3 linked regions of the Homo sapiens genome follow. The protein of the gene in region 3 interacts with the protein of the main gene of each other region in a pairwise test. Each region holds a gene or a part of one and is shown on either strand. Other genes may lie near its edges.

Region 1 (3,644 bases), on a different chromosome or scaffold from region 3:
TTTAGAAGTAACTTCGTGGCAACTGGAACCTGGTCCTTTCCAAGGAGACTGCACTGGGCTTCTATGGGGTGTCCCCAGTGAGTGTGTGTGCATGTGCATGGGTGTGTGCACGCACAGAGTCAATGACTCCTTGGAATTCTAGACCCGTGCTGCACTGTATGGTAATCTACTAGCTGCATGTGGCTATTTAAATTACAATGAAATAAAACAGAATATTTAGCTCTTCAGTTGTACTAGCTACGTTTTTTCCTCAGCACTTTCTGTGTAGAGAGTAACTGAGGCCCAGAGAAGCGAAGTAAGTCGCCTAAGGTCCCACAGCAAGTCTGTGGCAACCAGAGGGCAGAATCCAAGTTTTCTGAGAAATTCACCAGGCTCCTTTCATCTGGGATTTAAAAAATCCTCAAGAGTTCGGTTTAGTAACAAGAAAACTGAAAACAGATCTCAGAGCTGGAAGAGTTAGGGAGGAGGAAGGGGAGAACCGGATTCAGAGAAGGCCAGGACTGAACCCGAGGGTGGGGGCTCAAATATCCGTCCCTCCCTCCACCTGCTTCAGGGAAGGGAGGAGTGGGACTCACACGCTGTCTCCCTGGATGAACAACTCTGGCCGCTCTTTTAGCAAATTCTTCTTGATCCAGATGAGCAGGTTCCGGATGTCCCCTGGAAAGGAATGCACAGAACAAACTCTTGTCAAACCCAAATAGCACCTGCCCACCCCCAGAGCCTTGCCTGGCCCACAAGGAAATACACACGGTGTTTAGAGGGCTTCTTTTAGACCAGGCTGTGATAGCCCATGAACTTGTAGATTCCAAAGGTGAGGAAACAGGTTAGGACAGGCCAGTGACTTGCCAGGTGGATCTTCAGAGAAAGCTGCACCTGGCACTGCTGAAGTCCTGGAGAAGAGGCAATGGGATTTACCTATAGTGGGGGGATTCAAGGCAGACGGCGGGAGGACTGTCGCATCTAAAGGGTTAGGAGACAGGCCCCTACCCACAAGTCCTGGAAGCCAGTCTCCAACTGCCATGGCTGGACTTCTGAGAGGACCTTGAAGAGCCCCCTCCACCTTTATCTCTCCAGCCAGTCGCAGATGGGGAGGATTCGGCTTTGCTCTTGGAGGGGTCTGCATATATTTCCCTTTGTGAGGGGAAAAAAACAATTGCTGAGCTGATAACATCAGTTAATTTCCTCTGGCAGAGGGAGAGAAGGATCATTCACCAGCTAGGGATGCTGACAAATCCCTGCTCCACTCCCCTGCCACCACCCTGTGCTTCCAGAGCCCTCCGCGCCAGCGGTGGCCAGAGGTTCGGGTGACAGGGCCTCTCCAGCTCAGCTAACACTGAGATCTGCCTCCTTGTGGTTCTGGGGGAGCCACCAGCCTCCTTGTATGTCATGTGGAGGCTCAGAGCCACCTGTCTTCAGGGTCACCTGTCCTTTCCTAGGGGCAGCAGTATCGGGCCACAGCACACAGAAATGTGGCTCTATAAACACCTCGAAGCCTATGGTCCTCAACTGTCCGCCCCCGAAACAGGGCCATTCTCCTGAGGCTGAGGAGTTCCTTCTCATTCTCTTAGACGACTTGAGGATAAAGGTCCCAGGGAGACAACTCGCCTCTGGGAAGCCAGCAGACAGGTTGGGGTTAAGCACCCCATCCCGAGTCAGCGTCCAGAGGGGTCTGCTGTCCTGGACTAATGCCTGAGACAAAGCTCAGGGCTAAGCTGGAGAAGTCCCAGGTGAGGCCTTGATTTTCCTGCCTGGAGTCCAGAGTGTACGCAAGGGAAAGGTGGCTAGGACTCAGGGAGACTTTGCTCTGCCCTGTCTGGGCCCACAGTGTGGCACGCACACACGGCCCCAGCCTTGGGCAGGGAGTTAAGGCACGCTGGCTGGCACGCGTGCCCCCTCGCTCTGACAGGCCTGCAGCCTGGATGGTCCACTTTGCTTGGTGCCAACTTGCCTGGATCGTACGCCAGCAAAGCACAGGGCCACGGGCAAAGTGTCCATGGACTGAGACTGCCGCCTTTCCATTTTAATGTCTCCTTTTAAACAAAGCAGATCAGAGTCTTCACGGTCCCTGGAGCAGGCATGGGATGGGGAAAATGCTGCCTCCAACTAGCTGCAGCTCACTTGGACTCCTGGCTGGGTTCCTCCCTGAGGTCTGGGTTTCAGAGGTTTCCCCTTGGCTCTGAATCCCCTTGGCCTCCATCTTGGTACTGTCTGGTGGGCCGCCAACCCATACATCTTGTGGCTGCTCGATAGAGCCACCGGGGTCTGACACATCCATCAGCCAGCCCTAGCGGGCGGGGGTGTGCCTGTGTGTGTGGAGGCGGCGAGAAGGTCTGGGCAGTGCCTGGCCTGCATGGAACCAGGACTCAATTAGGGGACAGCCCTGACTCCCTCCAAAGGGAAGGTGCTTCTGCTCCACTCTGGATAGGCCTGGGGGTGGGGGAAGGGCTAGTGGTCATGGTGGAGTCATCCAAACGATGGCACCAGCATGGAGTCCCAGAGGGACAAGCTGGGGGATGAGTCTGCTGCCCAGTGCGGGCTCATTTATCATGATGCTCCTATTTGCTGAGGTCACTCCCTCCCTCTTCTGCCCGCCCCCCACCCAGGCCTGCCCACATTTTTGATAGCCTGTTACCATGGTGAGGCTACCGCATCGCCACTCGTATTGTTCCCCCATGCCTGGATTTGGGGGTGGGGAGAGGGGGAACTCATGGCTCCCTTCGCAGGATGCAAGGGCCACTCGGCCTGGCCTGAAACACACCCCCAGGGACATCTTGCTAGGCTTGCTGAGGCACAGACAATATGCAAATAGCCTCCAAGCCAGATGGTCGGCTTCCAAAGGCGCCCAGGGGAGGAGGAAGGGTTAAGCAGAGTCAGGGGCTGGTGGCTTGGGGATGGATGGCTCTGTGATAGATAGGGGCTGGAGACTCTCACTTTCACCTTCCCACTCTGTGTCCTCTTGTCTTCCCTCTCCTACTAGGGGCGGTCTCCCTCCTGGGATCCCGTGTGATCATGCAGGAGAAAAATATTTATTGAGCAGCTACTATGTGCAAGATGCTAGGGAGATGGTAGTGGGCAAGAGGGAAACAGAGCTACCTACCCTCAGGGAGCTAGAGGTCAGCAGGGGAGACATACCATACTTAATTAGTTGTGACAAATGCTATCTCCTTCATCTGGGATCAGGAGAGGCCTGACTGAGGGTGTTAAACAGTGAAGCTCGGGTCTGAAGGATGAGTGGGGTGGGGAGCATTCTGGACAGAAGGATAACACATGGGAAGGCTGGGGCAGGATGGAATGGGCAGGTTCAAGGCAGCAGAACAGAGAAGGTAAGAAGCTCAGCAGGAGATGGGGCCAGGCCTTGAGAACGGGCCTGCTCCCGTAGGGGCCTCTCCCTCCCAGTGAACCTCAGCGGTATCTCCCAGGTATGTGCTTCCTGGGAACCAGGCCCCACTGCCCAGGCCTGTGCTTCCATGTGTCTCTGACTCAACACTTGAATCACGATCCAGCTCAAATGTATGGCACTACCATTACCATTACTTGAGTGGACAACTGGGGAGGTAGGGAGGGAAGGAGGGAGGAAGAAAGAGACTAAGAGTATGGACCCTGGAGTCAGACAGGCCTGGTTTTGAGCTGGACTCCATCACTTA
Region 2 (3,644 bases), on a different chromosome or scaffold from region 3:
CCCCACAGGGCCCAATGGGCACTGTCAGTTCCAGGCACTGTGGGCTGCCTGGGGTGGCCTGGCTCTTCTAGCACCACAGGGAACGTGCGGGTGTCCACGCCGAGCGCGTCAAGGGGCTAAATCCACCCCCAACACCGCGGACCCCCACGCCACAGAGCTGCCCAGGGCACCTCCGGCTCACCGGGCTCACCAGCGCCCCCTGGGGGATGCTGCTGGACAACAGCGCCCTATGGCCGGCGGGTCTGGAATGTGCCCTGCGTGGCTGCCCTCAGCAGTCCAGGCCCCGCCCTGGGGCTCTGTCTCCCCAAAGCCCCCTCCGGACACAGCGAGGCCTCCGCTCCCCTCCCTGGGACCCCATGAGGCGTGAGGGTCTGAGCTGTGGGACCCCGAGCACTTGGTGTGTTTCTCAGCGCGATTTCTTCTTTGGCTCAGCGCTGTTGATGGTGTCTGTTGTGTCTTTAGGACACGCGTGTAAAGTGTATGGGAACCCTCAGGTGCTGTTTAAACACAGCATCCGCCTTGGGGTCTGGGAATCACCCAGCGGCACCTCCGTGCCTGGCTCCAAGCCTGGCCACTTGGCACCCACCGCGTTGGGTGCGTATCCTGGGCTTGTTCTCGAGGGGTGGGGGTGCTGTCCACGTGCGCACACATCACAGCACTGTGGTCTGGCCGCTGCTGAAGGGCACTGGATTGTTTGGGGTTTGGTGACTACGAGCAGAACAGTGGTAAACATTTGCGTTTATGTGTGAGCCTCTGTTTTCATTTCTCTTGAGCAAGGACCCAGGAACGGGACTGCTGGGCCACCTTTGGCTGTGATGAGAAGCTGTCCACAGTGGCTCTGCCGCGTTGCTCGGCCGGGTGTGGACGAGGCCCCCACCCCGCGGCCTGCTCAGCTCGAGGTGCCGGCAGTTTATTTGATTGTCTGAGCCCCCTGGAGAGTGTGCAGGGGCCTCGCTGTGGTTTCCATCTGCACTTCCCTGACGGCGCCCACGCGGCCCCCTCTCCGTGTGCTTGTCCGCACTTCCCTGACGGCGCCCACGCGGCCCCCTCTCTGTGTGCTTGTCGGTACTTCCCTGACGAGGCCCACGCGGACCCCTCTCCAGTGTGCTTGTCCGCACTTCCCTGACGGCGCCCACACGGCCCCCTCTCTGTGTGCTTGTCGGTACTTCCCTGACGGCGCCCACGCGGACCCCTCTCCGTGTGCTTGTCCGCACTTCCCTGACGGCGCCCACACGGCCCCCTCTCTGTGTGCTTGTCGGTACTTCCCTGACGGCGCCCACGCGGACCCCTCTCCGTGTGCTTGTCGGTACTTCCCTGACGGGGCCCACGCGGACCCCTCTCCGTGTGCTTGTCGGTACTTCCCTGATGGGGCCCACGCGGACCCCTCTCCAGTGTGCTTGTCGGTACTTCCCTGACGGCGCCCACACGGCCCCCTCTCTGTGTGCTTGTCGGTACTTCCCTGACGGCGCCCACACGGCCCCCTCTCTGTGTGCTTGTCCGCACTTCCCTGACGGCGCCCACACGGCCCCCTCTCTGTGTGCTTGTCGGTACTTCCCTGACGGCGCCCACACGGCCCCCTCTCTGTGTGCTTGTCGGTACTTCCCTGACGGCGCCCACGCGGACCCCTCTCCGTGTGCTTGTCTGTACTTCCCTGATGGGGCCCACGCGGACCCCTCTCCGTGTGCTTGTCTGCATGCACGTGTCTTCTCTGGTGGTGTCTGCTTCAAATATTCTGCCCGTCTTTTCACATGGATTTTTTTTCTTACTGCTGAGTTTTAAGGTTCCTTTGTGTATCTCAGAGACAAGTCCTTTCTCAGGCATGTCTCCTAGTCTGTGGCTTGTCTTCTCATTCCCTTAACGGTGTCTTCTGAGAGCAGAGTTTCGAACGTTTTGATGAAGTCTAGTTCATCCATTTTTTCCACTATAGGCCATGTTTTGTTGCCATTTCTAAGAAATCTTCGCCTAACCCCAGGTCACAGAGATCTTCTCTTTGGTGTTCTTCTAGAAGTTTTAGTTTCATAATTAGGACCGTCATCTATTTTGAGTTAGTTTTGTATATAGTGTGCAGTATAGACCAAAGTGCATTTTAATTTGCACAGGGATCACCAGTTGCTCCAGCTCCACTTGTGGAAGAAACAGTCCTTTCTCTCTGGCTTGCCTCTGCACCTGTAGACATCGGGGGGGCAGCATGCATGTGGCTGAGCCAGACTCCCCCTGGGCTGCGGGGCTGGCCGCGTGCCCGTGCCCACGTCGCTGCCACTTTGCAGTCAAGCCTCGATGAGCTTTGGAGTTGGGTAGTCAGTCTTCTGACTCTGTTCTCATTTCTTGAAATCGTTTTGGCTATTCTAGGCCCTCTGCTCACTGACTTCTGGAAAGGCTTGCTGGGGTTTTATGGGTCATTTGTCCCCTGACTCTTGGTCACTGTGGATTCTGCAGCTGGGAGTGCCCTCGGAATGCTTGGCCTGCTGGGTGCAGCCTTTCTCGCGCTGTCCAGAGGCTTCCCTGGTGAAATGCAGGTGCCTTTTGCAGAGCTGAGCCTCATCCACAGGATCTCTTGTTTTAAACACTGAAAAACCCCACTTTGGGTTAGTTGTGGTAGATCTGGTCAGAGGAGAAAAATGTTTTCTAATTAGAATTATTATATAAAAACCAAGAGTCAGTTTAGAACCCTCTAAAATTGCCTGAATGGCCTGTGGTGGGAGGATGTTGTAAGGCGTGGACTGTGTTTAGATGTGGCGTGTTGTGTGACCAGAAGCTTCTCATGGCACCTCCGGCCCACCGGGCTCTGCACCTCTGAGGCCAGAGCAGTGCAAGGGCACAGCGGGGCCGCCTGGCGGGTTTTGGAGCCAGGGCATCTGAGGCGTGGGCCTGCGCCCATGCTGCCAAGTGTCCGGGGGCGGCAGCCCCTCCTAACCATGTTCCTGTGTGGGGGACACCTCCACCTAGGACCCCAACACACACAGGCAGAGCCGGGGCCCCAGCAGGTCCTAGGACCCCCAGCTCCCGGCGCAGCTGGGCGGGGCTGTGGTGGCCCCGGGAGGAGGAGGTGGGCTCCGCTGCCTAATGGCCTCCGGCACTGCCCCAGCAGAGTGCAGACCCGCACACACCCTGTGTCAGAGCGGCCTGCAGGGCCGTGTGAGCATCCAGCTTTATAGAGGACCTGCTTCCGCCAAGCTTTCTTCCAAGACAGTTTGGATTTGCAGTGCTACCAGGGCGGCCGCCTGTGGGTGAAGCCTGTGGGCTGCTGGGCCATGGCTGTCCAGCTCTGCTCAGACCCACGCGTGGGGAGGGCAGCCCTGGGCCGGCCCGCGCCCAGCCCTAAGTCGCCTGTGCCCCTGTAGAGGGAAGTCTTGCCGGACCATCACCTTTGAGCAGTTCCAGGAGGCGCTGGAGGAGCTCGCCAAGAAGCGATTCAAAGACAAGAGCAGCGAGGAGGCCGTTCGCGAGGTGCACAGGCTCATCGAGGGCAAGGCGCCCATCATCTCAGGGGTGACGGTGAGCAGGGCGGGGATGGAAGGCGGGGCCTGGAGGGGGTGGGGGCGGGGCCTGGAAGGTGGGTGGTGCCTGGGGGAGGGGTGGTCAGGAGGGACATGGATTGGGGGCGTGACCTGGGGGGGGTCCTGGGAGGCGTGGTCAGGAGGGCG
Region 3 (3,644 bases):
TCTGGCTTCTAGAGGTGCTGAGGGGTCCAACCTCCAGTAGCTGCTCAGGTGAGGCGGGCCCAGGTGCAGTCGCAGCTCTCGGGCAGCCAGCCCCTGCCCCACTTCCCCTGCCTTTGTGGGGTGAGGGGACCCCACCCACCTGTTTTCTTGTCTTTTGCTCTGTAGACCACTCCATAGGTGCCCTCCTCGATCCTGTTCAGGCACTGGAACTCCTCGACGCTCCGGCAGCCCTGGGAAGGAAGCGCCTGTGTGAGGTCTCAGTGGCCATGCCAGCTGGAGGGAGGGCGGCTGCGTCCACAGGCACGGCACACCCGGCACGGGGCAGGTGCAGGGCAGAGCCTTGGGACTGGGCCGGGGGTGGAGCCGGGAGCAGCTCAGTTCTTTCAAAGTCTCTTTCCTTGCAAAACCATCTGACACTTTATTATGAAACAAAACCAGTGTGAACAAAAGGCCATCCCAGCCAGGTGCAAGGGCTCAGGCCTGTAATTCCAGCACTTTGGGAGGGCAAGGCAGGAGGACTGCTTGAGCCCAGGAGTTCAAGACCAGCCCGGCCAACATAGCAACACTCTGTTTTCTATTTTTTTTTTTTTTTTTTTTTGAGACGGAGTCTCGCTCTGTCACCCAGGCTGGAGTGCAATGGTGAGATCTCGGCTCACTGCAACCTCCACCTCCTGGGTTCAGGCGATTCTCCTGCCTCAGCCTCCCTAGTAGCTGGGAGTATAGGTACGCACCACCACGCCAGGCTAATTTTTGTATTTTTAGTAGAGACAGGATTTCACCATATTGGCCAGGCTGGTCTCGAACTCCTGACCTCTGATCCGCCCACCGCCTCGGCCTCCAAAAGTGCTGGGATTACAGGTGTGAGCCACTGTGCCCGGTCAAAACTCCTTTCTACAAAATAAAAAAATTAGCCAGGCATGGTGGCTTGCGCCTGTAGTTCCAGCTACTCAGGAGGCTGAAATGGGAGGATTGTTTGAGCCTGGGAGGGGGAGGCTCCAGTGAGCTATGATTAAGCCACTCCACTCCGGCCTGGGTGACAGAGACAGACCCAGTCTCCAAAAAAAAAGCCATCCCAAGAGTCTCTTTGTCAAACTGGATGTGTCCCCTGCTTGTACCAGGATGACACTGAGGACGGGCCCTACCTGCCAGGCGCAGCATGATGCCCCATGCCAGGGCACCTACCCCTCCGTGTACCTTGGGGCCGGTGCCCAGGCCGGATGTCATGTACTCGGGGTGGCCTGTGGCCCGACGCCTACGCTCAGCAGCACTAAGGGGCAGAGGCGCTCACAAGGCATAGGGCAGTCGACAGAGGCCTGCTGCATGCGCCAGAGAGAACCTCTCCGCCCACAGGCACCAAGGAGGGGGCCGAGTCCCTGCCGGTCTCCCAGGCCCCAGAGGCCACTGGCACCTTCTCAGGCTTGTCCCTTCCAAATCGCTCCCAACAATATCCTGCCTTATTGATAGCTGCCTAAGCAAAAGGCTTCTGGTCACACATCTACACTGACTCCCGTAGCCGCTCCCCCATCCAAGCCCTGCACAGATGCCGGTAACAAGGCCTTGGTGCCTACATAACCCGCCCACGCAGGGGTCAAGTGGAAGGCACTGCTCTCCAGTGCGGAGGAGGACGCAACTCGGGCAGCAGTGACAGCAGCGCGGCCGCACGCCCAGGCTGCCTTTCAAGCCGCAGAGCAGTCCTGCGGGCAGCTCCCTGTCCACCCAGTTCCGTCCAGCATGAGAAAGAGGCGGGACCTAGAAGCATGAGGGGCCAGTGGCTGTGCCCGCCCGTCACTGCCCCAGTGGGCCCAGCAGCCCTGTGAGGCGACAGACGCCAACACGGGGGCCAGGCTTCGCTCAGCCCCTGTGGTAACTCCGACTGCCAATGCGGACAGTGGCCCGGGGCGAGGGGAGGGCCTGACCTGCAGGGCCGGCAGGTACTTGGGCAGCTCCTGCTTGAGCTCGATGGGCGACAGGGCAGGGGAGTCGGGCACATAGTCGCCCTCTGTCAGGGCGCTGCTCTGCGGCGTTCCCTCACCCACTTCTTCCTCTGCTTCTTCACTCTCCCCGGAATCTCGGTCGAACCGTGACTCTGGAACTGGAAAAGTTGAACCTAATTACGAAGCTAGGAGTAAGCAAGGATCATGAACCTCCTCCTGCCCCGGGGGCATCAAGCGCGTGGCAGGGCTGCCCCGTGTCCCGCTGGGAGGTGCTGGCGCTGGGCTCTCGTCCCCTGGACACAGGGCACCGAGGCCTAAGAGTGCTGGCAGGCTCGGCTGAGACAGAGCCCGGATGCTGAGCTGGGAGGAGGCGTCGGGTGTCATGTGGGGGACAAGCCCACATCCACGTCCACCAGGCTGAGGACATAACCTCACTGCCTGTCGGAGGCTGGGCCAGGCCTCTGCTCTGCAGGGACAGGCCCGGAGCCACCATCTGACGGGCCTCCCCTGTGGGGAACTGGTCCTGGGCTTCCCAGCTCCTCGGCCCTGCTGGGCACTCAGGACGCCCTTGGTCAGCACTGTGCCTCGCTGAGGAATGCGGGCCCCACCGGCACAGCCTGGAGCGGCCAACGAATCAGGCGGCCTCCCAGACCCTGGCGTGCCCCACGCTGCGCAGGACCGGCTGTCTTAGGAGAGGGCTGCTGCACTCGGAGACAGACAAGGAGGGGGCTCTGTCTCCAGGGAGGTTCTTACCAACCAAGAGGTGGTTTTCATTTTCTCGTTCTTCATCTTCACTCATTTCTTCCTCACTTACTTCTTCTGCAAGAGAAAGGAGGCGTCTGCTCAGACCAGCACCGGGGCGAGTGCTGCCACAGGCAGGATGCGGGCTCCGCTTCAGCTAAGCAACAAGTGTTCCCAAGAATGGATATGCAGGCCGGGCGCGGTGGCTCACGCCTGTAATCCCAGCGCTTTGGGAGGCCAAGGCGGGTGGATCACCTGAGGTCAGGAGTTCGAGACCATCCTGGCCAACGTGGTGAAACCCCGTCTCGACTAAAAATAAAAAAATTATCCGGGCGTGCTGGCGCACACCTGTACTCCCAGCTACTTGGGAGGCTGAGGCGGGAGGATCACTTGAACCCGGGAGGCAGAGGTTGCAGTGAGCCGAGATCATGCCACTGCACTCCAGCCTGGGCAACAGATCAAGATTCCATCTCAAAAAAACAAACAAAAAGAATCGATGTGGAGGTGTCCCGAGAGAGTCCTAGATAGAAGGGAGTTTCAACTCCCCCGCCCGCCAGCTACTTCTCTGCGGTTTCTAACACTATAGTGAAGTCACAACACCTCACATAGTCGTCGCGGTGCCTCACCGGCAGACTGCTCTGATGCCTCCTCAGAGTTGCTGCCGGTCTCCTCCTCCTCCTCTTCCTCTTCCTCCTCCTCCTCCTCTGATTCTTCACTGGTGCTCCCTTCCTCCTCCTCCTCTTCCTCCTCCTCCTCTTCTTCCTCAGAACCTGAGCCTGATTCCGCTGTAGAAAGACAGCAGAGCAGAGGGTGAACCTGGGCCTTCCTGGGCAGCAGTGGTCAAGGCCTTGGCCAGGCGGTTCCAGGTACCTGACGAGGACTCGGCCGAGCTGGTCTTCCTCTCGCTGTCGCTGATGTCCTGTAAGTCGGACAGCAGGTCCCTTTCTTCCATTTTCTCTTCTTTTACTT

The links.
Region 1: the proteins of CDK11B (region 3) and URM1 interact in a two-hybrid assay, tested with the Homo sapiens proteins (one large-scale study listed by IntAct).
Region 2: the proteins of CDK11B (region 3) and TPPP interact in a two-hybrid assay, tested with the Homo sapiens proteins (one large-scale study listed by BioGRID and IntAct).

What each region holds. Positions count from the first base shown.
Region 1 is NC_000009.12:128,384,829-128,388,472, reverse strand, and holds part of URM1 (ubiquitin-related modifier 1), read right to left. Parts: intron 658-3,644; coding exon 576-657; coding exon of another isoform or gene 572-575; exon of another isoform or gene 1-571. UniProt on the Homo sapiens protein: Acts as a sulfur carrier required for 2-thiolation of mcm(5)S(2)U at tRNA wobble positions of cytosolic tRNA(Lys), tRNA(Glu) and tRNA(Gln). Serves as sulfur donor in tRNA 2-thiolation reaction by being thiocarboxylated (-COSH) at its C-terminus by MOCS3.
Region 2 is NC_000005.10:665,821-669,464, reverse strand, and holds part of TPPP (tubulin polymerization-promoting protein), read left to right. Parts: exon of another isoform or gene 1-2,601; intron 2,602-3,341; coding exon 3,342-3,495; exon of another isoform or gene 3,496-3,524; intron 3,525-3,644.
Region 3 is NC_000001.11:1,638,361-1,642,004, forward strand, and holds part of CDK11B (cyclin-dependent kinase 11B), read right to left. Parts: intron 3,642-3,644; coding exon 3,546-3,641; intron 3,461-3,545; coding exon 3,302-3,460; intron 2,754-3,301; coding exon 2,688-2,753; intron 2,093-2,687; coding exon 1,917-2,092; intron 231-1,916; coding exon 140-230; intron 1-139. UniProt on the Homo sapiens protein: Plays multiple roles in cell cycle progression, cytokinesis and apoptosis. Involved in pre-mRNA splicing in a kinase activity-dependent manner. Isoform 7 may act as a negative regulator of normal cell cycle progression.